Homo sapiens: one gene and its partners. The protein of the gene in region 1 purifies or fractionates together with the protein of each later gene. This does not show direct contact. Each region holds a gene or a part of one and is shown in the gene's direction. Other genes may lie near its edges.

Region 1 (4,109 bases):
CCTCTGTATTGTGCAATGAGGCTGGTAGTACTCCCATTCTAGGACACAGGAGGGAAGGGAACTGGGGTGCCACCTTTCAGTATGGAAACTTTCACCTCTGACCCTCTTTGCAATCCAGCAACCCTCCCACTGTGGTCTGGTGACCCCACTTTCTGAGCCCCCTGGTTCAATCTCTCTCATGGGGTGGTGAGGGGTGCTGCCCTCTACAAGGAGGGAAGTGGGGACTTGGGGGTTGAATGACTCCTTCTGTAGACTTTGACTTCATCTTCCTGTTTGCAGTCCTTACCTCCCCTCTGTCCCTTGCTGACTTGTCCCTTTAATTTTTTTATTTATTTTTATTTATTTATTTATTTTTGAGACAGAATCCCACTCTGTCACCCAGGCTGGAGCGCAGTGGCCCGATCTTGGCTCACTTCAACCTCCACCTCCCAGATTCAAGCGATTCTCCTGCCTCAGCCTCCTGAGTAGCTGGGATTACAGGCGCCTGCCACCATGCCTGGCTAATTTTTGTATTTTTAGTAGCTTCGGGGTTTCACCACGTTGGCCAGGCTGGTCTCAAACTCCTGACCTCAGGTGATCCGCCCGCCTCAGCCTCCCAAAGTGCTGGGATTACAGGCATGTGCCCCCATACCTGGCCTTGTCCCTTTAATTCTGAGTCTTGTCACAGCAAGTTCCCTTGCTTCTGTCTCCCCTTCTGCAGATTCTCAATTGCAAATTCTCCCACTCTGCCAAGCCTGGTACATCTCCCTTTCTGCGCGTCCCAGCTGCCTAAACTATATTGACCTTGCATCCGCTGTTGCCTCTCCTGTTCTTTGTTATTGGGGGTTTATTCCTTTTACATTTGGACGTGGATCCAGGTGGGCACAGAAATCAACCTGCCATGTCAAACCAGAGTCCACAAAGGATTTTACTAGCATGGGGTGGGGCTTACACTACAATGTTAGGAGAAAAATGCCATGTGAAGAATATGCTAAGTAAAAAAGAAAAAACTATAGAAAAAAGAAGGTGTAAATGCATCAATGTGGAAACTGTAGTTTTGGTGAGCTCCTGGGTGTGTTTTATTTTCTGCATATACTTCTCTGTGTTTCCCAAATTCCCTACAATAAGTCATGGAATTTTTTTTTTTTTTTTTTTTTGAGATGGAGTCTCGCTCTGTTACCCAGGCTGGAGTGCAGTGGCGTGATCACAGCTCACTGTAACCTCTGCCTCCCGGGTTTAAGCGATTCTCCTGCCTCAGCCTCCCAAGTAGCTGGGAATACAGGTGTGCACCACCACACTCGGCTAATTTTTTTGTGGTTTTAGTAGAGACGTGGTTTCACCATGTTGCCCAGGCTGATCTCGAACTCCTGGACTCAGGGGATCCACCCGCCTCAGCCTCTCAAAATGCTGGAATTACAAGTGTGAGCCACTGCGCCCAGCAACTCATGGAATATTTATGATTGTGTAGGGAAAACCCAACATTTTATATTAAGAAATGGTGACCCGTAGACAAAGAATATTGCAACTGACTAAGGCTTTAAGCAGAAAGAAACTCAGCTCAGTTATTTGAACTCTAGACTTCTATGGGCCCCTTTGAGCACTGTTTGGCCTCAGGTGAGGCCCTGACCTCTGACGTCTCTGCCAGCGCCTGCCCCCCAACATCAGAGGCTCTGTGGGGCTCCAGGCAGGTCAGGCATGAGTCTTTGATGAGATTCATATTTTCTTTTCCCCAGAACTACCTGAAGAAGCAGGTCACACCCCTCTTCATTCACTTCAGAAATAATACCAACAACTGGAGGGAGATCCCAGAAAACCTGATGGACCAGTGAGTGGGAGCTCTCATGGGTTTGGAAGTCCTGGGCACCCCGGGGAGTCAAGAGCAACATCCTGGCAGTGTTCTCTGCCGCAGCTCTCAATGCGGGGGCACCAGGCAGGGAGAGACCCCCACCCAGGAGCAGGGAGGTCCTGCCCTGAGGCTCCATGTGGCCTGAGGGCCCATCGGACCTCTTTATACAAAGACCCAAACTGAAACTCTAGCTCACCCCACTGGCTTGAGGTTATACAGTTTCTAGGTGTTGAAACTGGGGCTGGAGCCTGTTCCTGCCCTTCTGGGTCACAGGGCTGCTTTGGGGACCAAGGAACCTCAGGCCCAAGGCACAAAGCACATACAGCGGGGGTCAGAGGGCCAGTTAGGCCACAGAGCCTTAGGCAGGGTGCCGGCCTGGGGTTGTGTGTCAAGAGGTGAATCTTGGCTGGAGTTCGCCAGGTGTGCTAACCGCGTGTCACCCCTGGGGCAGGTACAGCGAGGTTAATGCCATCAGCACCGCCTGCTCCAACGGAGTTCCAGAGTGTGAGGAGATGGTCTCTGGCCTTTTCAAGCAGTGGATGGAGAACCCCAATAATAACCCGTGAGTGTCTCCCCTGCGCCTCCTCTGCCAGTCTTCATCTGCCCCCAACAGCCCCGTCCTCAGCAGAACCCTGTCCCACCCTCCCCGCTGCTGTTCCACACCTGACCTCCCTACCCCACACCAGGATCCACCCCAACCTGCGGTCCACCGTCTACTGCAACGCTATCGCCCAGGGCGGGGAGGAGGAGTGGGACTTCGCCTGGGAGCAGTTCCGAAATGCCACACTGGTCAATGAGGCTGACAAGCTCCGGGCAGCCCTGGCCTGCAGCAAAGAGTTGTGGATCCTGAACAGGTGAGTCTTGGCGCAGGGTGGGACTGCGAGAGCCCTCTCCCCACCTGGAGAACCAGGCAGGCCTCCACACTCCTCGCCAGATCCTTCACGTGACCCCCACAGACCTGTTGAGGTGGAGGCAGTATTTCCAAAGTAACCGGTGCAGACTGGAAGCTTTAATAAGTGATAGAGACAAGATATGGACTCAGGTCTGGGTCCATGTCCTCTGTTCCTAGCTGCTGTGGCCTCTTAGCCTTTACCTGACAACAACTCGTCTTCCCTTCTGTCAAAGGCTCTGGTGTAGCTGGACCTGGGTCTTTTCAAACATCCAGCTGGGCACCCCCTCAAGCCCTTGGATGAGGGTCCCCACCTCCCACCATGTGCCTCATATGCCATTACCTGGATGCAGTAAAGAAGAGCCACCCTTGGGCAGGGTGTGGTGGCTCATACCTGTAATCCCAGCACTTTGGAAGACTGAGGTGGATGGATCACCTGAGGTCAGGAGTTCGAGACCAGCCTGGCCAACATGGAGAAACCCCGTCTCTACTAAAAATACTAAAAATACAAAAAAAAAAAAAAAATAGGCATGGTGGCACATGCCTGTAATCCCAGCTACCCGGGAGGCTGAGGCAGGAGAATCACTTGAACCTGGCAGGCGAAGGTTACAGTAAGCCCAAATCGCTCCACTGCACTCCAGCCTGGGCGACAGAGTGAGACTCCGTCTCGAAAGAAAAGAAAAGAGAAAAGAAAAGAAAAGAAAAGAAGGGCCACCCTCAGTGTCAAAGACGGGAGTGACCACCCACCTGGTGCCAGGGCTTGGGGCGCTAGGACTCCTTCCTTCATTGATTCATTGTCAAATATTTCTATGTCAGGCATGACACTAGCTTAGCCAGTGACCCTGTGACCCTGCTTAGGTGACTCAGTTTTCCATCTATAGAGGGAAGAAGGACCAAGGGGTCCCTCAGCCCCTGGCAGGCCGAGGGGATGTTGAGAGGATGCAGGCATAGGTGATGTGCGTGGGACAGTCCAAGTTCTCTCCTGAGTCACCTGAATTAGCAGTAGCTGAGACAGCATCTGGCCCTCTTAGGTACCTGAGCTACACCCTGAACCCGGACTTAATCCGGAAGCAGGACGCCACCTCTACCATCATCAGCATTACCAACAACGTCATTGGGCAAGGTCTGGTCTGGGACTTTGTCCAGAGCAACTGGAAGAAGCTTTTTAACGAGTGAGTCTGTGGAATGGGTGTCAGGGACAGCGAGCGCCGAGGCTGGGGCCCCGGGGGGTGGCCTGTGCGGGTAAGACACGCCGGGGGCACTAACCAGAAGTGGACAAAAATCAGCCAAGCCTGGGGGCTAGGGTGGGGCAGGAATGGAAAGACAAGCTGGGGTATGGGCCGTCCCTTTTCCCATTTGGAAGGAAAACGTGGCGTGTGGGCGTATTCTCCAGAA
Region 2 (4,109 bases), on another chromosome or scaffold:
CTTCATCGAATGATTATTTGCCTGGAGGAAGAAGTTCTTCCGTTCATTCCATCTGCTTCAGAACATATGCTCAAAGATTGTGAAGCAAAAGATCTCCAGGAGTTCATTCCTCTTATCAACCAGATTACGGCCAAATTCAAGGTACCGCAAACTTTCAGAGCTCTGAAAATCTCTTGAAGATCAGATGTATTTATCTTCAGACATGTTTCGGATTTTGCCCTTGGGTTTCTTTTTTTTTGCTTTTAATGAATTACTTAAGAGCCTCATGGATCATATGTATTTTTATCATCTGTGGTGTCTGGCACACTGCCTGATACATAGGTCATGCTTAATAGATGTTTGAATATAAACAGACCCTAACCGCTTTGTGTAGCAAAAGAAAACTAGTCTGCTGTTTTAGAAGAGCATATAAAACCAGTAAACTGAGTACTAAATAAGCACCATAATTCAGGTACCCAAGCAAGAGTTAAAAGTAATTCAATGTATTAAAGTCAGTTTTCTGTAGGACATTTAAGCTGGCTAATAAAAGTGGTTAATACTTACATAGTACCTCTTTTTTCCTTTTTTCTTTTTTTTTTAAATGGAGATAGTCTCACTCTGTCACATAGGCTGGAGTGCAGTGGCGCGGTCACAACTCACTGCAACCTCCACCTCCCAGGTTCAAGCGATTCTTGTGCCTCAGCCTCCTGAGTAGCTGGAACTATAGGTGCATGCACCACACCACGCTAATATTTTGTACTTTTAGTAGAGACAGCGTTTCCCCATGTTGACCAGGCTAATCTCGAACTCCTGACCTCAAGTGATCCTCCTGCCTCGGCCTCCATAAGTGCTAGGATTACAGGCATAAACCTGGCCACTTACATAGTACTTTCTATGTTCAAAATCTGTTCTAAGCATTTTTTGTACATTTACTCATTTGATCTTCATACCTACCCTAGAAGACAGGGATTATATGTTATAGTTGAGGAAACTGAGGCATGGAGAAGTGAAGGGATTTGCCCAAGAGTTCATAAAACTCAGGAGTTCATTTGTAAGCAAGTATTGAGAACATGCTATTAAACAATGTTTTTTACCTTTGTTCAAAAACAAGAAAAACCCTAAGAGTTTAATCATATAATTCATTTTTTGAGAATTTAATTTTGAAAATATTCCATGGCAATATTGTGAAATATGTCTGACTATTATTTTAACCTAAATCTTAAGCTGTAGGAAAGGGTTTAAATTTAATGATCTTGAGTCTTTTAGTAATATTTTTTAAGGTTTTTTCCCCACCTTGAAATGGAGTCTTGCTGTGTTGCCCAGGCTGGAGTGCAGTGGTATGATCTTGACTCACTGCAACCTCCACCTCTCAGGTTCAAGCAGTTCCCCTGCGTCAGCCTCCTGAGTAGCTTGGACTGGGACTACAGGCGTGCGCCACTACACCCAGCTAATTTTTGTATTTTTAGTAGAGATGGGGTTTCACCATGTTGGGCAGACTGGCCTTGAACTCCTGACCTCAGGTGACTCACCCGCCTTAGCCTCCCAAAGTGCTGGGATTACAGGTGTGAGCCACTGCGTCTGGCCTAGTAATGTTTAGGTTATATAGATTTTATCTTAAAATTGATATTTGCTAACTGAATTATGTACGCATGCATCCTAAATAGAAAAGAAAGGCTTTATGTAAAATAGTTTTTTCTAAGTTGTATGTTAATATTGTTACTAATTTCTGAAGTAATGATTGTTTATCTTCAGATACAGGTATCCCCGTTTTTACAACAGATGTTCATGCCCCTGCTTCATGCAATTTTTGAAGTGCTGCTCCGGCCAGCAGAAGAAAATGACCAGTCTGCTGCTTTAGAGAAGCAGATGTTGCGGAGGAGTTACTTTGCTTTCCTGCAAACAGTCACAGGCAGTGGGATGAGCGAAGTTATAGCAAATCAAGGTGGGAACACATGCCATATCTAATTTGTCTGCTTAAGTCTGTGTCACTGTTGTACATCTATATGACCAAGAGCAAACTGAAGTAAATACAGAAATTTTGAAGTTTGCTATCCCATGGGAAGACAGTTTATTGTTTTCAGGGTGGGAATTGATCACTTTTATGTAAAGCACCTAAAATTAATTTGTATTCTGTTCCTTTTTCTTTCTGCAATATTTTTTTAATTTGGTTCTTTAGCAATATAAATAACATGGTTACTTACCAGAATTGACCTGACAATTGAGTCTTTATGGCAAATTTGCCATTTTGAAATATAAAATAAATGGAGCTGTACAGATTTGTGTAGAGAATTCTGTATAGGAAATTTAGGGAACAAGATACCAGGGGCAAACTGATTTTTCATTGTTTTATTTTTTAATTTGATTTGATTTGTGAGATAGGGTCTCACTCTCTTGCCCAGGCTGTAGTGCAGTGGTGTCATCACGACTCATTGCAACCTCCACCTCCTGGGCTATCCTCCCATCTCTACCTCCTGAGTAGCCAGGACCATTGGCAGTTGCCACAATGCTGGGCTTATTTTTTGTAGAGATGGGATCTCACCACGTTGCCCAGGCTGGTTAAACTCCTGGGCTCAAGCAATCTTCCTCGGCCTTACAAAGGGCTGGAATTACAGACAGGAGCCACCGCGCCCAGCTGATTTTTCAGTGTTTAATGTTTAAACTTTAGGTGCCCAGTTAATAAAAATCAAGGGATTTTGGCAATTCTGTAAATGCTTTTTTCCCCCTTCATTTTTCCCATTCCACCTGTAAATGATTTTTGACTTGTTAATGTATATGAAAAGAGAACTTCAGGTTGCTTTCCTAGTTAATTTTGGAAATTGCTTAAACTAAAGGTTTTTCTCCTCAGGTGCAGAGAATGTAGAAAGAGTGTTGGTTACTGTTATCCAAGGAGCAGTTGAATATCCAGATCCAATTGCACAGAAAACATGTTTTATCATCCTCTCAAAGTTGGTAGAACTCTGGGGTAAGATAATTTTATTTCTTAACCTTCATTTCCCAAACTCTTTCATAAAACTCTTAGACATAATGGAACATAGCCCTAACAGAGAGAGAAACTGGGAGTTGGTTTTCCCTGGTGATGAATTAATTGACTTACTTTTATATATAAGATGAAAATTTGAATTCTCTTGACAGGAGGTAAAGATGGACCAGTGGGATTTGCTGATTTTGTTTATAAGCACATTGTCCCCGCATGTTTCCTAGCACCTTTAAAACAAACCTTTGACCTGGCAGATGCACAAACAGTATTGGTAAGCACCTAGGAATCTTTGTTTACCTTGTGTAGCTCATATATTCCCAATTTCTTCTTTAATGCCAGGTTGATTATATTATGTTTCATTGATTTTTTTTTTAACTTAGTGATTTCAGATCAGGGTTCTTTTTTTAAAGATTTATGATACCTTCTGGAGTTTTTATGAATTCTTATTGAATCCCAATGCTACTGCTGAATTTTACAAATTCTACTCCTTCGACTTTAACACCTGACTTTTTCTAGGACCATGAAAGGGCATATGTCACAAACATTCTTTCAAGCTTGAGTATTAGTTTCCTACTACTACTTTAATTCTAAAACTTGTACCTAGTGGTTTTCCCTAATCATTAAGAGCATGAAATGGCAACTTGATCCTCCTTGTATGATAGTTTCCCCAAATCTAATTTTCACAATACTTAATGTCAATTTCCGCTTTCTCACTTTCCCACAACCTGGTAAAAGCTAGATTTCATAATTGTAATTTACTACGTTAAAACAACAGTTTGTATTTTTCTGTTTTTTTTCTTTTTTTACTTCAACCCACTTAGTCCATCTGCCTGTTACCTTTCCTTCCTCTATCCCTTCTCTGGAGTTAAATATTTCTCTGGAAATATTTATTTGAATTTCCCTGGCAGTGGCCAGGGTAGTAAAGAGAAGAGCTGGATCACTAAACAAGAATTGAATATATAGAAATTCTTAAACTTGTTTTTCACAGGCTTTATCTGAGTGTGCAGTGACACTGAAAACAATTCATCTCAAACGGGTAAGCCTTTTAGTCCATGCCCCTTCATTTTCATCTCACATGTGGTATTATTATCTTGTTCTTGAAAGATGTATCTTGTGTAAAATTTAACTTTTGTTTTGACTTTTTGGATGTGGG
Region 3 (4,109 bases), on another chromosome or scaffold:
TGAAAACTAGTTTTAAAACTGCAAGCTTAAAAAAGTCAAAATTATAGTATACGTATATTTAGATTGATGCATTATCAGCTACCTTATTAAAAGGAGATTGTTGATGTTCCTGTTGAGATACAGCTAGATACGGAAGCACGTTCTGAATAAATAAATGTAAGCTCATGCACATTTTTGGATCCTGTTGTAATTCCCATGGCAGTCCTGTACCATATATGGTATCTGTGGTGACCTGTAGTTAATCATACTTTCCGCTGAAAGTATGATAGCTGGAATTCCCATCTTACAATGAGTTTGGGTGGAAACAAATTTATTAGACTCATTTAAGTACTGAGAATGTAGAGCAGTAAATCTTGCAATTTACCTTTGAAGTGGTAAGAATTTGAAAGGTAATATTTCCATTCTGCAGAAGACTTATGGCCACAGGAGAAATGAAGAGTTTAAAATTCTGTAATTATTGTGTTTAATCCAGAAGATCCTCTTCACATTTAAGACATTCCATAAATTTCCATTCTTTTTCTTCTCTACTGAAGTAGGGTGTCATTTTAGAAAGCCTACTTTGTGTATTTACTATAAAATTAAACAACAGCATGAAAGTGAAACAACTGCAGATAACACCTTTAATTTTCGTTCTCTCTTTGGCATTAAATTTTTCCATCAGGATTTAATGATTCGTCTGATAAGGTTTCTATCATGCAATTAATACAATTTGCTTAGTACTATAAAATGCAACAAAACTATTTTGCTTAGGCTGCAGTAGGTAATACTTTATATTATCATCTTTAAAGTTTGTTATATTTTAATTTAAAATATGGGCATTCTTGTATACAGAAGTTATTTTTATTATAAAATATCTTTAAAGGTCATTAGTTCATCATTAATATACTAGTGTCTTTACATTTTTTACTTTATTTTGTTTTCAATAAGGCATCCAAACCTCACAAAAACATAATATCAAATGACTTCATAGTTTCAAGAAACATACTATAACTGAAGTCTATTGAATATTATCCCTTTCAAAAGTTGTATTAATGAATTAACTGTACATTCTTTCTAATAATATCCTATGCAGCAAAGAAAATGAATGAGCTACTGCTATATAGTTAGGAACTTTGAAAATATTAGTAATGTTCCATTTCTTAACCTTGAACGTGAATACCCTAATGTTCATTTTATTATTTATTAAAACACACACATGCTATATGTAATCTTTGGTATTTATAATATATTTTATGAAGAACATTTTTTAAAAAGGAAAGAAATGAGCAATAGAGGGTATCAACTAAACTAAACCTCTTGAGTATAGACAAACCCTACTCTGAGCAAGTCAAAAATAGAAAAGGCATACATAAAACAATATTAGGAATGAAAAGGAAGTATAGTTTTGGAGAGAACAGATGTTAAAAAGTAAAATAACATGAATAGATAATTCCAATTAACTTGAAAATACAGACAAAACAGACAACTTCTTACAAAATACACATAACCAACATTGACTTGAGGAGGTATACAAAATCTAAATAGACCTGTAACCATTAAATAAATTGAATTAGAAGTTAGAGAGCTCCACACACACTTCTTTAGATCCACCAGGCCCAGGTTTGTGATAAGTTATTTCTTTCAGAATTATATGGAACAATGTACTTTATGTAAATTGTTTCAAAGAACAAAAAAATACAGAACTCTTCTTAACTCATTTTATGAGGATCGTATGAAGTTGAAAAATAGTAGCCTGATCTCACTTACAGACAAATATGTGAAATGAGATAAATTGAAAACAAACCAATATATTTGTAAGATATAAATATTTTATGTTCTTGTAAGGCTTATCAGGAAAGGAAACATGGGTTCACATAAGAACATCTATTATTGTATTTTAACATAGTATCAACAGAGAAAATGTATCAACAGAGAAAAACTGATTATTTCAAGAAAGTGGAAACATTTCATTTCAAAAGAATTCATAGAATTCATAGCACACTAAGAATGTAGAGAATGAACTTTTTTTTTTTTTGAGATGGAGTTTTGCTCTGTTCCCCAGGCTGGAGTGCAGGCTGGAGGTTGGCTCACTGCAACCTCCGCCTCCCAGATTCAAGTGATTCTCCTGCCTCAGCTTCCTGAGTAGCTGGGATTACAGGCTTGTGCCACCACAGCCGGCTAATTTTTGTATTTTTAGTAGAGACGAGGTTTCACCATGTTGGTCCGGCATGTCTCGAACTCCTGACCTCATGATCCGCCTGCCTCGGCCTCCCAGAGTGCTGGGATTACAGGCATGAGCCACTGCGCCTGGCCAAGAATGAACTTTCTTAATGTAATGAAACATATCTAACAAAAATGAATGAATGAATGAATGTTACAAGGAAAAAAGAAAAAGACTCATAATTAATGGCAAAACTGTAAAAATATTCTCTTTAAGTTAGAAACAAATCCATAATGGTCAGTACAGGTGTTTCTGTTCAGCATTCCAGAAGAGGTCCTAACAAGCATATCAGATAAAAATTAGCAATAATGAAAGACTTGTAGGATTAAAAGAAAAGAAACCTAGTTGTCATTTTGCCAGCGACAGGATTAACTACATAGAAAATCCAACACTATCTATTAACAGATACTAGAACTAATAAAAGTAAGCAAGTTTCATGGATATAAGCTTAATATTTTTAAATGATTTCTATATATTATCAAGGGACAACTCAAAAATATGTTAAGAAGAATCCCATTCATTACAGCAACAAATCAATGTATCTAAGATAAATGTAACAAAAAATGTGAAAGACCTTTTTAGCAAAAATTGCAAAGCTTTATTGAAAAACAAACATAATTCGGCCGAGTGCGGTGGCTCACGCCTGTAATCCCAGCACTTTGGGAGGCTGAGGCAGACAGATCACGAGGTCAGGAGTTCAAGACCAGCCTGTCCAACATGGTGAAACCCCATCTCTACTAAAAATACAAAAATTAGCTGGGGGTGGTGGCAGGCGCCTGTAATCCCAGCTACTCAGGAGGCTGAGGCAGGAGAATTGCTTGAACCTAGGAGGCAGATGTTTCAGTGAGCTGAGATCGCACCACTGCACTCCAGCCTGGGCCACAGAGCAAGATTCCATCTCAAAAAAAAAAAAGGAAGAAAGAAAGCAAAAAGGAAATATAATTCATAAGTAAGTGAGAATGAATCATGTTCATGGATGGAAAGTCTCAAGAGCCCTAAATGTCAAATCCTCTTTAAATTAATATTTAAAGGAAATGGAATTTCATCAACATCCTAAAATAAATTTTTACAGAACTTGGGGAACTGATCATAAAATTGTTTTGAGAGTCAAAGTCTAAAAAGAGCAAAAATACTACTTTAAAAAAAAAGATTGAGCAATGGGGAACTTTGAGGTTTTTGAGTATCTGGTATACAGAAAATTTTAATAAAGATGTGTCAAATGAAAAAAACAAAATTGAAGCACTCTGTTTATCAGAAGATTTCATAATAAAAGTTAAAAAGCAAACTAAGTAAACCTACAAGAAAAAAATTTAACAAGCACAAACAATAGATAAGTGATTAAAGGAGGAAGAATAGATGATTTACAGAAGATAAATGGCAAATAAACACAAGAAAATACAGTCAATCTCACAACAAATAAATAAAATGCAAATTAAAACAGCCATTAGGTTGGCAACATGGAAAAAGTCATAAAATTATTTGTAAGGGAGGATATGGGAAATAGAGAGATTTAATATGCTAGGGGCATTAATAGAAATTGATATTAGTACTTTGTAGAGCAACTTGGCAATAGCTAATAAAATTGAAGTTGTTCATGTATGGCACAGTAATTTCCGCTTTAGGCACAGCTGTTCATATAGTGTCATTTGTAATAGAAGAAATGAAAAGCAATCTAAATAACCATCAATAGGAGAATGACTAAAAATAAACTGTGGTACATTTATGGAAAAATCTCAAACATACTGTTGGATGAAAAAAGCAAACTGCAAAAGGATGCATATAAACAGATACTACCCAAAACCAGCTTATATTTTATGGGCACAAGCATATACTATATAATGAAAGTATAAAATCCTACTGAGGAAGTATAAATTCTAACTTCTGAAAACTCTATTCCCTGGAGAAGAGT
Region 4 (4,109 bases), on another chromosome or scaffold:
AAACCCTAGCGATTCGTTTTGGACGAATGCCAAGATCTGAGAAAGCAAAACTGAAAGCAGAAATTCTTACCTGTGAACATGACATAGAAGATTCTGAAACTGCAGATCTCAAATCTCTGGCCAAGAGAATCTACGAGGCCTACTTGAAGAACTTCAACATGAACAAGGTCAAAGCCCGGGTCATCCTCTCAGGAAAGGCCAGTAACAATCCAGTAGGTGTTTGCGGCTGTTCTGGGTTCTCTTGGCAACATGGAACCAGTGTCGTAGAGGACGATTAAGGACACATGTGTTGAATGTTGAGAAAATTATATTTATCCCACAGTTAAGCAAAGGACAGCGAAGATGGAAACAGTTCATTCTGAGACTCTGAGCTGTAGCTTAACAACAACTCCTTTCTTCTTGCTTGGAGCCACCTCAAAGCTCTTAGCAACTAAGTTATTATACTGGCTATGTAATTAATACACTTAAAAAAAACCTTAATAGCTTACCAAGTACTAAGATGATTTCTTAGGAGCATTTTTTCTTAAATAGAGATAGGTTCTTGCTCTGTTGCCCAGGCTGGAATGCAGTGGTGCAATCATAGTTCACTGCAGCCTTGAACTCCTGGGCTCAAGCAATCCTCCTGCCTCAGCCTCCCAAGGAGCTGGGACTACAGGTGTGCACCACCACACCTGGCTATGTTTGATGTTGTTGTTGTTTTGTTTTGTTTTTGTTTTTTGGTAGAGATGAGATGTTTCCCAGGCTGGTCTCAAACTCCTGGCCTCAAGTGATCTTCCCACCTCGGCCTCCCAAAGCACTGGCATTACAGGTGTGAGTCATGGCACCCAGCATTAACTGGATTTAAAAAAAAAAAAACTGACCAGGCAAGATGGGTCATGCCTGTAATCCTGGCACTCTGGGGAGGCCAAGGTGGGCAGATTGCTTGAGTCCAGGAGTTTGATACCAGCCTGGCCAACATGGAGAAACCCCAACTCTACTAAAGATACAAAAATTAGCTGAGCAGGGTGGCACACACCTGTAATTCCAGCTACTTGGGTGGCTTAGGCATGAGAATTGCTTCAACCCGGGAGGCAGAGGTTACAGCAAGCTGAGATCATGCCACTGCACTCCAGCCTGGGTGACAGATCGAGACCCTATCTCAAAAAAAAAATAGAATAATAAAATAAATCCCTACTTTGAGGTGTATTAGTCTGCTATAAAGAAATCCCTGAGACCTGGTAATTTATAAAGAAAAGAGGTTTAATTGGCTCGTGGCCCACAAGGCTGTACAGGAAGCTTCTGCTTCTGGGGAGGCCTCAGGGAATTTGACTCATAGCAGAAGGTGAAGTGGGAGTAGGCGTCTTGCATGGCAGGAGCAAAAACAAGAGACACACACTTTTCACCCATCAGATCTTGTGAGAACGCTATCACTAGAGTAGCACCAAGAGGATGGTGCTAAACCATTCATGAAGGATCACCCCCATGATCCAGTCCCTCCCGCCAGGCCTCACCTCCACCACTGGGGATTACAGTTCACCATGAGATTTGGGTGGGGACACAGAGCCAAACCATATCATAAGGCTAGAAAAGGAAACCACTTACTTCCCACTCAAAATGTGCTCTTGGTCCTTTCTCCTAAAACTACTCCCTCCCTCTCAGACAAACATGCCTACATTCTTTTTCCGCCTTCAGTGAAAAGACAGTGACATCTTGGGGCTTAGAAAGGGCCACTTGTAAGCCAGGCGTGGTGGCTCACGCCTGTCATCCCAGCACTTTGGGAGGCCAAGACAGGCGGATCACGAGGTCAGGAGATCAAGACCATCCTGGCTAACATGGTGAAACACCATCTCCACTAAAAATACAAAAAATTAGCCGGGCGTGGTGGCGGGCGCCTGTAGTCTCAGCTACTTGGGAAGCTGAGGCAGGAGAATGGCGTGAACCCAGGAGGCAGAGCTTGCAGTGAGCCGAGATCGTGCCACTGCACTTCCAGCCTGGGCGACAAAGCCAGCTGTGTCTGGGCGCGGTGGCTCATGTCTGTAATCCCAGCACTTTGGGAGGCTGAGGTGGGTGGATCACTTGAGGTCAGGAGTTTGAGACCACCCTGGCCAACATGGTGAAACCCCATCTCTATTAAAAATACAAAAAATTAGCTGGGCATGGTAGCGGTTGCCTGTAATCCCAGCTACTTGGGAGGCTGAGGCAGGAGAATTGCTTGAACCTGGGAGCTGGAGGTTGCAGTGAGCTGAGATCGCACCACTGCACTCCAGCTTGGGCAACAGAGTGAGACTCTGTCTCAAAAAAAAAAAGAAAGGAAAAGAAAGGACCACTTGTTATAGAAAGCCTGTCTTTTAAGGTAGCTCTGGACCTTTTCAGAGGCAGCCAAATTGCCCCTCATGGTTCGTCCCCCACATCCCCGCCTGCCTGGCCTAAGTCCTCCTTCCCCCTCCCCAACAGTTAAATAAGTCTTTGTCTCCATTACAAAACAAATCTCAGAGCTACCTTCAAAGAAGAGCCAGCCCTCAGTTGGTGAATGAAGATACTTTGACATTTTCCTATGAGCATGGTGAAACAGGTTTAATTTGTATTAAATAGCTTGAAGCAATCCTTATTGGGAATTACAAGGTGGAATTTTAGTCACAGGAAAATAAAGCATTTCACAAGCTACTTACTTTCATGAACAAACCAAACCTCTTCTTTACTGAGTCCTTTAATTCTTCAGTGAATTCTCCAATTAAATAGGCCGAGACATTTTAGAAGTTTCCAGCAGACACCCACACTAGGCAGCTCCAGAGGCTTGTCCCAATTAGAACTTTCCTGGATTACGAGAGTGAAAGAAAAGGTAACTTTTAGCTTCGAGTCTCTATCCTGGATATGATTAGTACAGCCCAAAATTGGGATGGCTAAAACTTTTGTTTGCCAGCTTATATTTCTCCCTTGGATTTCAGAATTGAAAGCAGGCTGGGCACAGTGGCTCACACTGTAATCCCAGCACTTTGGGAGGCTGAGGCGGGAGGATCACTTGAGGCAATCCAAGAGTTTGAGACCAGGCAACACAAGGAGACCTCGTCTCTACAAAAAATGATTTTTTAAAAAACTAGCTGGGCATGGTGGCATGTGCCTGTGGTCCCAGGTACTTGGGAAGCTGAGATGGGAGGATGGCTTGAGCCCAGGAGTTCAAAACCAACCTGGGCAACATGGCAAGACCACATCTCTACAAAAAATAAAAACATTATCCAGGCATGGTGGCACATGCCTATAGTCCCCGCGACTTGGGAGGTTGAGGAGGATGCCTTGAGGCCAGGAGTTCAAGGCTGCAGCGAGCCACGATCGCGCCACTGCACTCCAGCCTAGGCGACAAAGCGAGACTCTCTAAAAAAAATTCGAAGCAGAGTTAAGTTGTCTTTCTTCCTAACAACCTGCCCCCACCATGGGGTGCGAATGGGACTCCTGGAGTCCTCCTGCACCTCCCCTTGGAGACCACCAAGCTCTAGGAACCCCATCACCCTCAGCTGAGGGTCACATGCAGCAACTAGCAGGCGGGAATCTGTTTGCATTTTGGCCTTAAAGAAATAAATAATAGGCCAGGCGCGGTGGCTCATGCCTGTAATCCCAGCACTTTGGGAGGCTGAGGCAGGTGGATCACCTGAGGTCAGGAGTTGGAGACCAGCCTGACCAATATGGTGAAACCCCGTCTCTACTAAAAATACAAAAATTAGCTAGGCATGGTCGTGGGCACCTGTAATCCCAACTACCCAGGAGGCTGAGGCAGGAGAATTGCTTGAACCTGGAAGGCAGAGGTTGCAGTGAGCCGAGATCACACCACTGCACTCCAGCCTGGGTGACAGAGCGAGACTCCATCTCAAAAAAAAAAAAAAAAGAGGGCCAGGCGTGGTTGCTCATGCTTATGCCTGTAATCCCAGCACTGTGGGAGGCAGAGGAGGGCGGATTACCTGAGCTCAGGAGTTCGAGACCAGCCTGGGCAACATGGTAAAACCCCATCTCTACTAAAATACAAAAAATTAGCCGGGCATGGCAGTGTGCGCCTGTAGTCCCATCTATTCGGGAGGCTGAGGCAGGAGAATGGCGTGAACCTGGGAGGTGGAGGTTGCAGGGAGCCGAGATCACACCGG
Region 5 (4,109 bases), on another chromosome or scaffold:
GGGTTTCGCCATGTTGACCAGGCTGGTCTCAAACTCCTGACCTCAGGTGATCCACCTGCCTTGGCCTCCCAAAGTGCTGGGATTATAGGTGTAATTTACCACACCCAGCCAAGATTTTTTTAAAATAAGAAAAGAGCATGAGTTCTATAAATCGGTCCTAGGTCTGAGTCCTGGTTCCAACATTAATTTGCTCTTTGACCCTGGATAAGTTACTCTGCAAGTCTAAGATTCCTCATCTGTAAAGTGTTGATAATTATAACTCCCTCACAGGGATTACTGTGAATATTTAAATAAGACAATGAATGCAACATGAATCTTGCTTTCATGGAGCGTATAGTCCAGTGGGAGACACAATTAGGAAGTAAACATATAGAATTACAGCTTGTGCCAGGTTCTCTGAGGGAAAAAGAACACTGTTCTCTTAAGAAGAATAATAAAGGAAGGGAGATGTTTTAACTTGGATGATCAGAGAAAGCTTCTAAAGTGGTGATACTAGACTGAGACCTGAATGACAAGGAGGGAAGTCAGTAACATAAAGGCGGGCTCCTCGGCACTGCCCAGGAGTTCTGGAGTATTTCCCCAGTAAACTAGTGTTCCTAACAGTAGTTTCAGATGTTCTTTGCTCTTCTCAGACTTTCTACCATTTATCTTAGGAAGAAAATTGAAGCCATCAGATAAAATTCCCTTAACTCCATGTAAACCACTGCTTCCAATTTTTCTGAGTGATCTTTTTTTTTTTTTTAATAGAGATGGAGTCGCACTATGTTGGCCAGGTTGGTCTTGAACCCCTGGCCTCAAGGAGTCCTCCTGCCTTGGCCTCCCAAAGTGCTAGGATTATAGGCGTGAGCCACCACATCCAGCCTATCTTTTTTTTTAATTAAAAAAAATTATTTTTTGAGACAAGGTCTGATTCTGTTTCCCAGGCTGGAGTGTAGTGGCATGATCATAGCTCACTGCAGCCTTGAACTCCTGGACTCAAGCAGTCCTCCTGCCTCAGCCTCCTAAGTAGCTGAGATCACAGGTGCATGCCACCAACATCTGACTAATTTTTAAAAATTTGTAATGGAGATGATGTCTTTCTATGTTGTGCAGGCTGGTCTTGAACCCCTGGGCTCAAAGCAGTCCTCCCACCTCAGCCTCCCAATTACAGGAATGAGCCACCACACTCAGTTTTTTGTTTTTTGTTTTTTGTTTTTTCCCAGTCAGGGTCTTACTCTGTCACCCAAGCTAGAGTGCAATCATAGCTTACTATAATCTCAAACTCCTGGGCTCAAGCGACCCTTCGACCTCAGCCTCCCGACTAGCTAGCTAGGACTACAGGTATGTACCACCATGCCCGACTAATTAAAATTTTTTGTTGTTGGGATGGAGTCTTGCAATGTTGCCCAGGCTGGTCTCAAACTCCTGGCCTCGGGTAATCCTCTTGTCTCATCCTCCCAAAGTACTGGGATTATAAGCATGAGCCACTGTGCCTGCTCATTATTTCTTTAAGTACTTTTTCAGCCACACTGTCTTTCTCCTGTCCTTGAGATATTCCAGTGACACAAATATAGCTTTAGGTTTTTGGTTTTGGTTTTTTTCCCATTCTGTTCTTGTTATTTAAATTAGGTAATTTATGTTGTTTTATCTTCTAGTTCACCAGTCTTTTTTCTCTGTTCTCTATTTTACTGTTGACCTCAAGCATTATTATATTTTTCACTTCTAAAATTTTTATTTGATTCTTCTTTATATCTTCTCTTGCCTTGCTGAGTCTGTTTTCATTTTTTTCTTTTTTTCCTTATTAAATTTTTTTTAAATTTTTTTTTTTTTTTTGAGATGGAGAATCTTGCTGTGTCGCCCAGGCTGGAGTGCAGTGGTGCGATCTTGGCTCACTGCAACCCCTGTCTCCCAGGTTCAAGTGATTCTTCTGTCTCAACCTCCTGGGTAGCTGGGACTACAGGCGTGTGCCACCATGCCCAGCTAATTTTTGTATTTTTAGTAGAGATGGGGTTTCGTCATGTTGGTCAGGCTGGTCGCGAACTCCTGACCTCATGATCTGCCTGCCTTGGCCTCCCAAAGTGCCACCGCGCCTGGTCTGTTACTCATTTTTTTTCAAGCATATTTGTTTACTTTTGAAAATTTAATTGCATTTTTTTATGGCTCCTTTAAAATCGTTGTCAAATAATTTTAACATTTCTGTTACCTTACTGTTGGCATATATTGATTATCTCTTTTTGAGTTTGAAGTCTTACTGGTTCTTAGTATGATTCAGAGTAATTTTTTATTGAAACCAGGACATTTTAGGTGATATGAGACTTTTCTGTTTTAGTTTGAGTCACTGACGTCACTCCAGCAGTGGAAGGTAGGAGCACTGCCTTGTTACTGCCAGATTGGGGTTAATGTTCTTTGTAAAAATTTTTATAGGCCAGGCACAGTGGCTCACGCCTGTAATCCCAGCACTTTGGGAGGCCGAGGCGGGCGGATCACGAGGTCAGGAGATCAAGACCATCCTGGCTAACACGGTGAAACCCCGTCTCTACTAAAAATACAAAAAATTAGCTGGGCATGGCAGCGTGTGCCTGTAGTCCCAGCTACTCCAGAGGCTGAGGCGGGAGAATGGTGTGAACCCGGGAGGTAGAGCTTGCAGTGAGCCCAGATCGCGCCACTGCACTCCAGCCTGGGTGAAAAGCGAGACTCCGTCTCAAAAAAAAAAAAATTATTTTATTTTATTTATTTTATGTTATTTTATTTTATGTTATTTTTATTTTTTATGTTATTTTATGTTATATTATTTTGTTATGTTTTATGTTGTTATTTTATTTTATTTTGTTATTTTATGTTGTTTTGTTATTTTATTTTATGTTATGTTATTTTGTTACGTTATGTTATTTTATTTTATTTTGTTATTTTATGTTATTTTATTTTGTTATTTTATTTTATGTTGTTATTTTATGTTATTTTATTTTGTTATTTTATTTTATGTTATGTTGTTATTTTATTTTATGTTATGTTATATTTGAGGTGGAGTTTCGCTCTTGTTGCCCAAGCCGGAGTGCAATGGTGCGATCTCAACTCACTGCAACCTCCGTCGCCTGGGATCAAGCGATTCCCCTGCTTCAGCCTCCCAAGTAGCTGAGATTACAGGCAGGCACCATCAGGCCTGGCTAATTTTTTGTGTTTTAGTAGAGACGGGGTTTCACCATGTTGGCCAAGATGGTCTCGATCTCCTGACCTTGTGATCCATCCGCCTCGGCCTCCCAAAGTGCTGGGATTACAGGTGTGAGCCACTATGCCCAGCCAGATTAGGGTTAATGTTCTTTCTGGTTCCCCACTTGGCTTCTCTTGACACCCAAGGTGCAGGGCTATGCAGAGGTTGGAATTCTGACTCCCCACTAGGATTCTATTGATACTTCCCTAAATGAGAGGGGTATGGGTATGTCATTTCTGCTTCCCAGTTGGCTTCTACTGACACCATGTTGGGAGGAGGTGGCCTCATTACTGTTGGGCAGTTGTGAAAGTCCTGACTTTCCACTAGACTTCCTATGACAGCACCCCAGCAGGGAAGCAGGTAGAGAACTTCATCGCTGCTTGATGAGTGTTGAAGTTCAGGCTCCCCAGAAGGTATCTACTAACATCGTGGTGGGGGATAGTTCTTACTACCCAGCAGGAATGAAAGTCCTTGCTCTCTACTCAGACTTCTCTAACACCTCCCCTGTGGGCAGATTGGGGCAAGTAATTACAGCCTGGCAGGGGTAGAAATCTAGGCCCCTATTGGCATTTGCTGGCATGGGTGGAGCTGCAGTTTTTTCTGTCGTGTTTGGCTGAAGTAGAGCAGTTACTGTCTACTAGCTGTTTCCTGTCTTACTAGTTGCTGCTTTCCTGGTACGTTGGCTAGAGAGAGCAGATTTTGGGGGAGGTTTTTGTCTGTGCCCATTGGTGTTTCCAGGCTGCTGGCTCCTTCAACTTTAGATCTGGGATATATGACCAGAAAAAAACCAGGAACTTTTCTGCGTTGTTCCATGGGTCCCAAGGTCCCCCCTAGCTGATCTGCTTTCATCTCTTCACCTTTCAGAGTGATCTAGCTCCAGCTCACCTTCAGCCTCATTTCTTCTGTCCCATTTGCATGCTTA
Region 6 (4,109 bases), on another chromosome or scaffold:
CCTGCTGCAGCGCGGCATCACCAACCTGTGTGTGATCGGCGGGGACGGGAGCCTCACCGGGGCCAACCTCTTCCGGAAGGAGTGGAGTGGGCTGCTGGAGGAGCTGGCCAGGAACGGTGAGTGGACACCTGCTCCTCTGTCCTGCGGGTTTTCGCCCTGTTTCAGAGCTTTGGAACCGACAGGTTTCCCTCTTCACTGTGGCAGAAGTACCTCTTCTCACAGATCTTACAGGTCACCATCTCAGGACTTTTTAGGATCTCAAAAAACAACAGCAATGATCGTAAGAATGCTAGTAATTTAACCTTACCATGTGCCAGGCACCCTTCGACCTTTCACACAGATAGCTTTATGGAATCCTCACGACAGCCATCTAAGCCAGGTTTTAGATCATCCCATTTACAGATGAGGAATCAAACGGCCACTCAGCCGTGGGGCGAGCCGGGTCCCCAGCAGCCTGGGACACTAGCATCCGCCTTTCAGCCCTCACACTGTGTCCCTCCAGCTCGCTGGGGTCCTTTAAAACTGAAGTTGGGCCGGGCGCGGTGGCTCACGCCTGTAATCCCAGCACTTTGGGAGGCCGAGGCGGGCGGATCACGAGGTCAGGAGATCGAGACCATCCCGGCTAAAACGGTGAAACCCCGTCTCTACTAAAAATACAAAAAATTAGCCGGGCGTAGTGGCGGGCGCCTGTAGTCCCAGCTACTTGGGAGGCTGAGGCAGGAGAATGGCGTGAACCCGGGAGGCGGAGCTTGCAGTGAGCCGAGGTCCCGCCACTGCACTCCAGCCTGGGCGACAGAGCGAGACTCTGTCTCAAAAAAAAAAAAAAAAAAAAAAACTGAAGTTGCCACAGGACTTTAATTTATTTAGACGATAAATCTCTGCCAATACATCATCCAGTACCAACTTTGGCACTACTTAGGAAAGCGTTTCTGAGAGCCCTGTGTGTATGTGGTTTATTTTTGTTTTGTTTGATTGTTTGATTTTGTTTGTTTTGAGACAGAGTCTTTCTCCATTGCCCAGGCTGGAGTGCAGTGGCACGATCTCGGCTCACTGCAACATCTGCCTCCTGGGTTCAAGCAATTCTCCTGCCTCAGCCTCCCAAGCAGCTGGGATTACAGGCATGCGCCACCACACCCAGCTTTTTTAAAATTTTTTTATTTATTTTTTATTTTTAGTAGAGATAGGGTTTCGCCATGTTGGCCAGGCTGGTCTCGAACTCCTGACCTCAGGTCATCCACCCGCTTCGGCCTCCCAAAGTGTAGTTTTTCTCCCTTGAAGCGGTTATGTAATTTCAGTGCAATATTAAATATGACCAGGGAAGCATATTGTTTAACAGCAACTCGATGAGAGGCGGCATTGAGGCAAAGCAGCTGTCCCCAGGTTTGTGAACATCCTCGTAGGGGATGGAGAAGGCTGCCCGTTGGAAGCAGCCAGGCCTCACGGTTCCCGCTTGTCCACCTCATCCCGTCTGGCACAGCACAGTGAGTGCACAGACCGGGACAGTGGCCACAAGTCCGGGCCCAAGCTTGCCCCTGGCCCTTCAGTGGTTCCGATTCCCTTTATGCAGAACTGCCCAGCCCAGGTCTGTCCTGAGTGCGAGGCAGATGCTCACCCACGATCCAGCTTCCCACAGATGCATGAGAAATCAGTGTGAAGATGGCCTAGTGTCTTAGATTCTTAATTCCGTAATTGTAACGTATCCTGTTCAAAGCCGTGTCATTCTCTGAAGCTGTTGCCAGGAAGTACTGAGATGTTTGTTTACCGATTGCAAATGTGGATCCTTTCTTTTATTTTTCTAATCCACTGCTCTTGTCTAAGTGCCAGGTGACAGAGTCCATTGTGTGTAACTGCTGCCAGCTTTGTCTGGCTTCTCTTTCCTTAACTATGCAGAATCCGGTTGCCTTGAGTTCGGAGAAAATAAAGAATCGGCCAGGGCAGTGGCTCACACCTATAATCCCAGCACTTTGGAAGGCCAAGGCAGAAGGACCACTTGAGCCCAGGAATTTAAGACCCGCCTGGGCAACATAGAGTGTGGGTCTACAAAAAAAATTAAGAAATCAGCCAGGCATAGTTCTAGCTTCTCAGGAGACTGAGGCAGAAGGATCGCCTGAGCCCAGGAGTTCAAGGCTGCAGTGGGCTATGATGGTGCCACTGCACTCCAGCCTGGTCAACAGTGAGACCCTGTCTCAGAAAAATGATAATAAAGAAATGATACCAATAACAAAGAGTTTAGAATGGTTGATTTCTCTACCCATGGCCATTCTGCCTCACCCCTAGTGGGGCACCCCCCGAACGCGCCATGGTTACGGCGATGAGACGTGCTGTTTGCTCCCCGCGCAGGCCAGATCGATAAGGAGGCCGTGCAGAAGTACGCCTACCTCAACGTGGTGGGCATGGTGGGCTCCATCGACAATGATTTCTGCGGCACCGACATGACCATCGGCACGGACTCCGCCCTGCACAGGATCATCGAGGTCGTCGACGCCATCATGACCACGGCCCAGAGGTAAAGCGCTCAGAGGAACCGGCGGGAGGCCAGTGGGGCCCGACGTGTGCCCAGCTCAGACGTTACCACGGGCTCTAGAACATTCTGCAGATTGGGTGTCCTGGTGCTGGTCTCGTAACTTGACTTTTAGGAGCTATTGCCAGAACATTGTTCTCTGGTCTACTTTTCATTTTTAATTTTAAAACATTCCTTGTTTTTAACCTGATGATAGAAAACAGTTTATTAGAATTTGGAAGGAAGAAACAAAGTAATTATCCTCTAAATGTCCTACCCAAACATCTCCAGAAGGAGTGGCAAGCAGGAAACTGTTGTGTGGATTTTCCACACTACTCATTAGAAACGCAGCCAGCGATGTCCTGCCCTGTGTAACCTACGGATTCACGAAGTGTCGTGGGGGCCACAGCGTTTGATCCGAGGTGCTCTAGGCTCAGCAGGTTATCACTAAAGACTGTGGGGCGCACCGTACAATTTCTGAAGCAATTTGCATGAAAACCATGTGGAATGGTAAATAGAATAAGTGTCTCCCCTTTAAGGACGAGGTGCTCGAGACTGGGAGAGTGCCCGAATCCAGTCCCCAGCATGGCGCCTCCCAGTCCTCTGTGTGCGTGTCCTGTTCCCAGTGACGCCTCACTGGACATTCTCAGTGCGTGGGCGTGAACCCCACAGTTGGTGGAAAATCACCGAGTTGGAAGGCTGCTCGGAGCAGTTGGATTTTTCCATTCCCTGGGAAGACCCACAGTCTCTGGGCATTAAGCACTTAGTGAGTCTGGCACTCACTTGTTTCCGTGGGAGAGATCCAGCCGTGGCTGTCGACAGCAGCTGCCGACTGTGCCCAATAGAGAAGGTATCTGGGAAAGAGCCCAGCACGGGGCCGGGGAGTGTGAGTGTGTCCTGGCACAGGCAGGCAGAAGGTGTCCAACGTGCAACTGGAGAGCGCAGAGGTGGCTCAAGTCCCCTTCCTCGCAGGAGTCTGGAAGGCTACTGCATAGCGTTTGCCTTAGTAGAAAATGGACCATTTTTGAAGCCTAGGTCCCTGCAGGCCTCCTGGCTAACTCGGCTGTCAAAGCCCCTTTTCTCTGCTTTCTGAGCTGTTTCCAGGACTGAGTGGGTGCTCCCTCTGTTTCTCTGCTTTCTGAGCTGTGTCCGGGGCTCCCTCTGTTTCTCTTCCAGCCACCAGAGGACCTTCGTTCTGGAGGTGATGGGACGACACTGTGGGTACGTACCTGCGGTGGGTCCGGTGGACGCGGTTCAGGTGGGGGACCCTCAGCATCATCTCCCTGAGGCTGCACCCCACATCCTGAATGCTCCCGTGGAAAGTCCTGAAGGGGCCGGCATCCCGCTTCATACCTGGCGTTAGGTCTGCACGTCTGTCGCTGAGCGGGGTGCCTGGGCTGCCCTCGTGGGAAGGATCCTTCTGGGGTGTTGATGCTGTTGCCTTGTCCACATAGGTACCTGGCCCTGGTGAGTGCCTTGGCCTGCGGTGCGGACTGGGTGTTCCTTCCAGAATCTCCACCAGAGGAAGGCTGGGAGGAGCAGATGTGTGTCAAACTCTCGGAGGTAATGCGGGTCCCGTGGCCGTTGATAGCGGGCGATGCTGGCTGCA
Region 7 (4,109 bases), on another chromosome or scaffold:
GTGTCATGTGAACCTGCAGGCTGGCCCTCTTGCCACAGTTAAAACCACAGTCCAGATGTCAGATTTTACATAGATGTCTGTGCTGACGCAGTCCCGTTATGAAAAGATCTATTTTGTCATATGCACTGCTGTGGTGAATATAAGTGGTCTTGATGATTTCAGCCCTTGTCACATTGACTTTTCGCTGTCATGTATTCACTTGATTCGCTGGCAGGTCCCAGTGGGAATTCTTTTCATGGCATCTTTGTGTTTTGGTGACACCCAGGTGGATCCATAAAGAACCCAGCCAACCCGCAGAGGGAGGGGAGGGGCTGAGCTGTGAGGAGAGCGGGGCCCAAGAACCATGTCTACGCGGGAGTCCTTTAACCCGGAAAGTTACGAATTGGACAAAAGCTTCCGGCTAACCAGATTCACTGAACTGAAGGGCACAGGCTGCAAAGTGCCCCAAGATGTCCTGCAAAAATTGCTGGAATCTTTACAGGAGAACCACTTCCAAGAAGATGAGCAGTTTCTGGGAGCCGTTATGCCAAGGCTTGGTAGGTAACCCAGTGTTTCTTTGATGGTCTGCGATCCAATCAGTGAGTCAAAAACTGGATTTCTCGCCTCCCATGTTGCCTATTTATTTTTTATTATTACTTTTTTTGCTTTTATAGATTTGAGGAATACACATGCAGTTTTGTTACATGAATATATTACATAATGGTGAAGACTAGGCTTTTAGTGTAGCCATCACCCAAATAGTGTACATCGTACCCCCTTTATTTTTTTTTAATTTTTGTGGGAAGGATTAGAAGAGCAATCAATGTTATGATTGCTATGTTATGTTCTTGTAACTTATGTAGAGAAAGTACTTGAAACGCATCAAGAGGGGTACTCTTGACAGTTTTTAAATCATGGAGTATGCAATTGAGATTGTTATTACAGTAAAAACTTTTTAATTTTTATTTTCAATTTAATTGAATTGAATTTTCTGTTAGCTGAAGATTAAGCAGAAATACTTTATTCCCTTTTCCTAAAAGGACTCCTAAAATGCTCACATTCCCTTCATTGCCCTAGGAAAGGCGGTTCCAGCCTTAGGGTTCTTGTGCTGTACTTGGATGGCAGTGACTGTGTCAGGAGGGCATTGGGGTTCTCTGCAGGGTGCATCGGGCGAAAAGCGTGTTACGGTGAGGAGGTGGGACTGCTCCAGACCCAGGACTGGATGGATCTGTTCTTGACCCCAGGATGTCATCTGGAACCAGGGCAATGTCTTTTTCTTTACTACATTCCTGATGTCATGAGTGATTTCACTTTTCCCAAACACAGAGCTTAGAAACAAATTCTGGGCTCCTGGGATATTGTTTATTCATGTTTCTTGTGCAGTTTATTAAGTACACAGTACAAGACTGTGATCACTTTTCTTGTGTTCGACGCATAGTTTCGGAGGTTTGGATGTTCGATAATTACTGTGTGACTTGATCAGTTTTCTTCCTTTTTTTTTGAAATGGATTCTCACTCTGTCACCCAGGCTGGAGTGCAGTGGCGTGATCTTGGCTCACTGCAACCTCTGCCTCCTGGGTTCATGCGATTCTTCTGCCTCAGCCTCTTGAGTAGCTGGGATTATAGGCCCCTGCCACATGCCCGGCTAATTTTTGTATTTTTAGTAGAGATGGGAGTTTTACCATGTTGGCCAGGCTGTTCTCGAACTCCTGACCTCAGGTGATCTGCCTGCCTCAGCCTCCCAAAGTGCTGGGATTACAGGTGTAAGCCACCACACCCAGCCAAGGTTTTCATTTCATTTGTTTTTGCCCATTATTTGGTAAGGTTCATTGGTTATGAGCCTGGGGTCTCCTTTACTCCCAGATAGAGAAAGCAGATAAAAGCAGACTTGCTTTTGTTGGAAAGGAAGAAATGTTACACCCCAGTCGCTGGTGACCTGCAGGACTTTGAGGAGCTCAGTTTGAAAACAGTTCCTGCCGTCCAGCTGATGGCCAAGCTGTGGAGAAATACCATGTGAGCGAGCTGGGTTTGATGTTGGCTTATTTGTCGAGAAATGAGAATATACTGAGGAAGCTGTTAGATAACTGTCAAGAAAAAAAGCTATTAATACTTAATGCTCAAAAACCAATGAAATTAAAACATTACGGCATAAAGTAAGAATTACTATTTATAACTTCCTCTGGCACAGTTACTTACTAGTCACTCATATTATGTCATGAATGTCACCCAGCCCTCCTGAGCCTCAGCTTCCTAATCTATAAAATAATAATTACTGTTTGGGGTTGGGTGCGGTGGCTCACACCTGTAATCCCAGCACTTTGGGAGGTCAAGATGGGCAGATCACTCAAGGTCAGGAGTTCAAGACCAGCCTGGGCAAAATGGTGAAACCCATCTCTACTAAAAATACAAAAGTTACCTGGGCTTGCTGGTGTACACCTGTAGTTTCAGCTACTCGGGAGGCTGAGGTGGGAGGATCCCTTGAGCCCGGGAGGCAGAGGCTACAGTGAGCTGAGGTCACACCACTGTACTGCGGCCTGGGAGACAGAGTGAGACCCTGCCTCAAAAAAAAAAAAAAGATTACTGTTTTGCATTGTTGTACCAAAAATGTGTGTAGGTGTGCCATGTATGTCTGTACTTACATATATAATACATGTATGTGTATACCCTCTGTACACAAGTATATATGGTATATATGTATGGGTGTTTTTGACCTTTTTTTTGTTGTTGTTGAGATGAAGTCTCACTGTGTCGCCCAGGCTGGAGTGCAGTGGCACAATCTCAGCTCACTGCAACCTCCGCTTCCCAGGTTCAAGCAGTGATCTCCTGCCTCTGCCTCCCAAGTAGCTGGGACTACAGGCGCATGCCACCACACCCAGCTAAATTTTTTTGTGTTTTTAGTAGAGACGGGGTTTCAAGGTGTTGGCCAGGCTGGTCTCAAGCTCCTGAGCTCAGGTTATCCACCCACCTCAGCCTCCCAAAGTGCTGGGATTACAGGCGTGAGCCACCGCACCCGGCTGTATGTTTATTTTTTTAACTTTTTTTTTTTTTGAGACGGAGTCTCGCTCTGTCGCCCAGGCTGGAGTGCAGTGGCGCGATCTCCGCTCATTGCAAGCTCCGCCTCCCAGGTTCACGCCATCCTCCTGCCTCAGCCTCCCGAGTAGCTGGGACTACAGGCGCCCGCCACCATGCCTGGCTAATTTTTTGTATTTTTAGTAGAGACGGGGTTTCACAGTGGTCTCGATCTCCTGACCTCGTGATCCGCCTGCCTCGGCCTCCCAAAGTGCTGGGATTACAGGCGTGAGACACCGCGCCCCGCCATCTTTTTTTTTTTTTTTTCCTTGAGATAGAGTCTCACTCCATCACCCAGGCTTGAGTACAGTGGTGCAATCTCAGCTCACTGCAACCTCTGCCTCCCGGGTTCAAGGCCCTCCCAGGCCTGATTCTCATGCCTCAGCCTCCCTCCAAGTAGCTGGAATGACAGACGTGCACCACCACACCCAGCTAATTTTTTTGTATTTTTAATAGAGTTAGGGTTTCACTATGTTGGTCAGGCTGGTCTGGAACTCCTGACTCTAAGTGATCTGCCCACCTCGGCCTCCCAAAGTGCTGGGATTAAAGGCATGAGCCCCCGCGCCCGGCCTGTTTATGTTTTTAACTTTTTTCTAATTGAATGTCATGTTTTCTGGCTTCAAAAATGGTGTTAATTGAAGGGTTAACCAAAACAGCTTTTAAATGTACACACGATTACTAAATGTATCCTAATTAAAGAAATGGTAAAAGAAGTGTGCCTTAGAACCAGAGACATTTGTTGCCTGGTGCCTAGGAGCTATCAAGTAATGATTGCTGCTGCTGGCGGGGGCGGTGCAGGGGTTGGGGGTGGGTAGTGGTGTGATAACTTAGGTTGTCTTTCTGATGGAGGATGTCAGTATTGCTGAAAACCTTCCAGCAAGTTTGCCCATTGCCTCCTGGTCATTAAACCTAAACTGTTCTGTCTAGTATTTAAGGCTTCCCCGACCCTGTGGCATTTTCCTCTGTTCCCAGTTACCATCCCTCTGGACCGTCCCTCTGTCTTTCCATTTCAAACGCTAGTTTTTCAAGGCCTGTGGGCATCTCAGGCTCACCCCTTCTCT

Evidence for each region.
Region 2: the proteins of ANPEP (region 1) and XPOT purify together in Homo sapiens (affinity purification with mass spectrometry, with the first as the bait; one large-scale study listed by BioGRID). This does not show direct contact.
Region 3: the proteins of ANPEP (region 1) and DSC3 purify together in Homo sapiens (affinity purification with mass spectrometry, with the first as the bait; one large-scale study listed by BioGRID). This does not show direct contact.
Region 4: the proteins of ANPEP (region 1) and PPARA purify together in Homo sapiens (co-immunoprecipitation; one large-scale study listed by IntAct). This does not show direct contact.
Region 5: the proteins of ANPEP (region 1) and ZYG11B purify together in Homo sapiens (affinity purification with mass spectrometry, with the first as the bait; one large-scale study listed by BioGRID). This does not show direct contact.
Region 6: the proteins of ANPEP (region 1) and PFKP purify together in Homo sapiens (affinity purification with mass spectrometry, with the first as the bait; one large-scale study listed by BioGRID). This does not show direct contact.
Region 7: the proteins of ANPEP (region 1) and SEPHS1 fractionate together in Homo sapiens (co-fractionation; one large-scale study listed by BioGRID). This does not show direct contact.

Annotation. Positions count from the first base shown.
Region 1 is NC_000015.10:89,790,730-89,794,838, reverse strand, and holds part of ANPEP (aminopeptidase N precursor), read left to right. Parts: intron 1-1,712; coding exon 1,713-1,804; intron 1,805-2,276; coding exon 2,277-2,387; intron 2,388-2,511; coding exon 2,512-2,679; intron 2,680-3,745; coding exon 3,746-3,886; intron 3,887-4,109. UniProt on the Homo sapiens protein: Broad specificity aminopeptidase which plays a role in the final digestion of peptides generated from hydrolysis of proteins by gastric and pancreatic proteases.
Region 2 is NC_000012.12:64,431,683-64,435,791, forward strand, and holds part of XPOT (exportin-T), read left to right. Parts: coding exon 1-141; intron 142-1,731; coding exon 1,732-1,921; intron 1,922-2,824; coding exon 2,825-2,941; intron 2,942-3,111; coding exon 3,112-3,227; intron 3,228-3,944; coding exon 3,945-3,992; intron 3,993-4,109. UniProt on the Homo sapiens protein: Mediates the nuclear export of aminoacylated tRNAs. In the nucleus binds to tRNA and to the GTPase Ran in its active GTP-bound form. Docking of this trimeric complex to the nuclear pore complex (NPC) is mediated through binding to nucleoporins.
Region 3 is NC_000018.10:31,035,803-31,039,911, reverse strand, and holds part of DSC3 (desmocollin-3 isoform Dsc3a preproprotein), read left to right. Parts: intron 1-4,109. UniProt on the Homo sapiens protein: A component of desmosome cell-cell junctions which are required for positive regulation of cellular adhesion. Required for cell-cell adhesion in the epidermis, as a result required for the maintenance of the dermal cohesion and the dermal barrier function.
Region 4 is NC_000022.11:46,219,803-46,223,911, forward strand, and holds part of PPARA (peroxisome proliferator-activated receptor alpha), read left to right. Parts: intron 1-9; coding exon 10-212; intron 213-4,109. UniProt on the Homo sapiens protein: Ligand-activated transcription factor. Key regulator of lipid metabolism. Activated by the endogenous ligand 1-palmitoyl-2-oleoyl-sn-glycerol-3-phosphocholine (16:0/18:1-GPC). Activated by oleylethanolamide, a naturally occurring lipid that regulates satiety.
Region 5 is NC_000001.11:52,764,325-52,768,433, forward strand, and holds part of ZYG11B (protein zyg-11 homolog B), read left to right. Parts: intron 1-4,109. UniProt on the Homo sapiens protein: Serves as substrate adapter subunit in the E3 ubiquitin ligase complex ZYG11B-CUL2-Elongin BC. Acts to target substrates bearing N-terminal degrons for proteasomal degradation with the first four residues of substrates being the key recognition elements.
Region 6 is NC_000010.11:3,101,439-3,105,547, forward strand, and holds part of PFKP (ATP-dependent 6-phosphofructokinase, platelet type), read left to right. Parts: coding exon 1-116; intron 117-2,340; coding exon 2,341-2,506; intron 2,507-3,170; exon of another isoform or gene 3,171-3,676; coding exon 3,677-3,721; intron 3,722-3,954; coding exon 3,955-4,063; intron 4,064-4,109. UniProt on the Homo sapiens protein: Catalyzes the phosphorylation of D-fructose 6-phosphate to fructose 1,6-bisphosphate by ATP, the first committing step of glycolysis.
Region 7 is NC_000010.11:13,341,185-13,345,293, reverse strand, and holds part of SEPHS1 (selenide, water dikinase 1), read left to right. Parts: intron 1-265; 5' UTR 266-343; coding exon 344-536; intron 537-4,109. UniProt on the Homo sapiens protein: Synthesizes selenophosphate from selenide and ATP.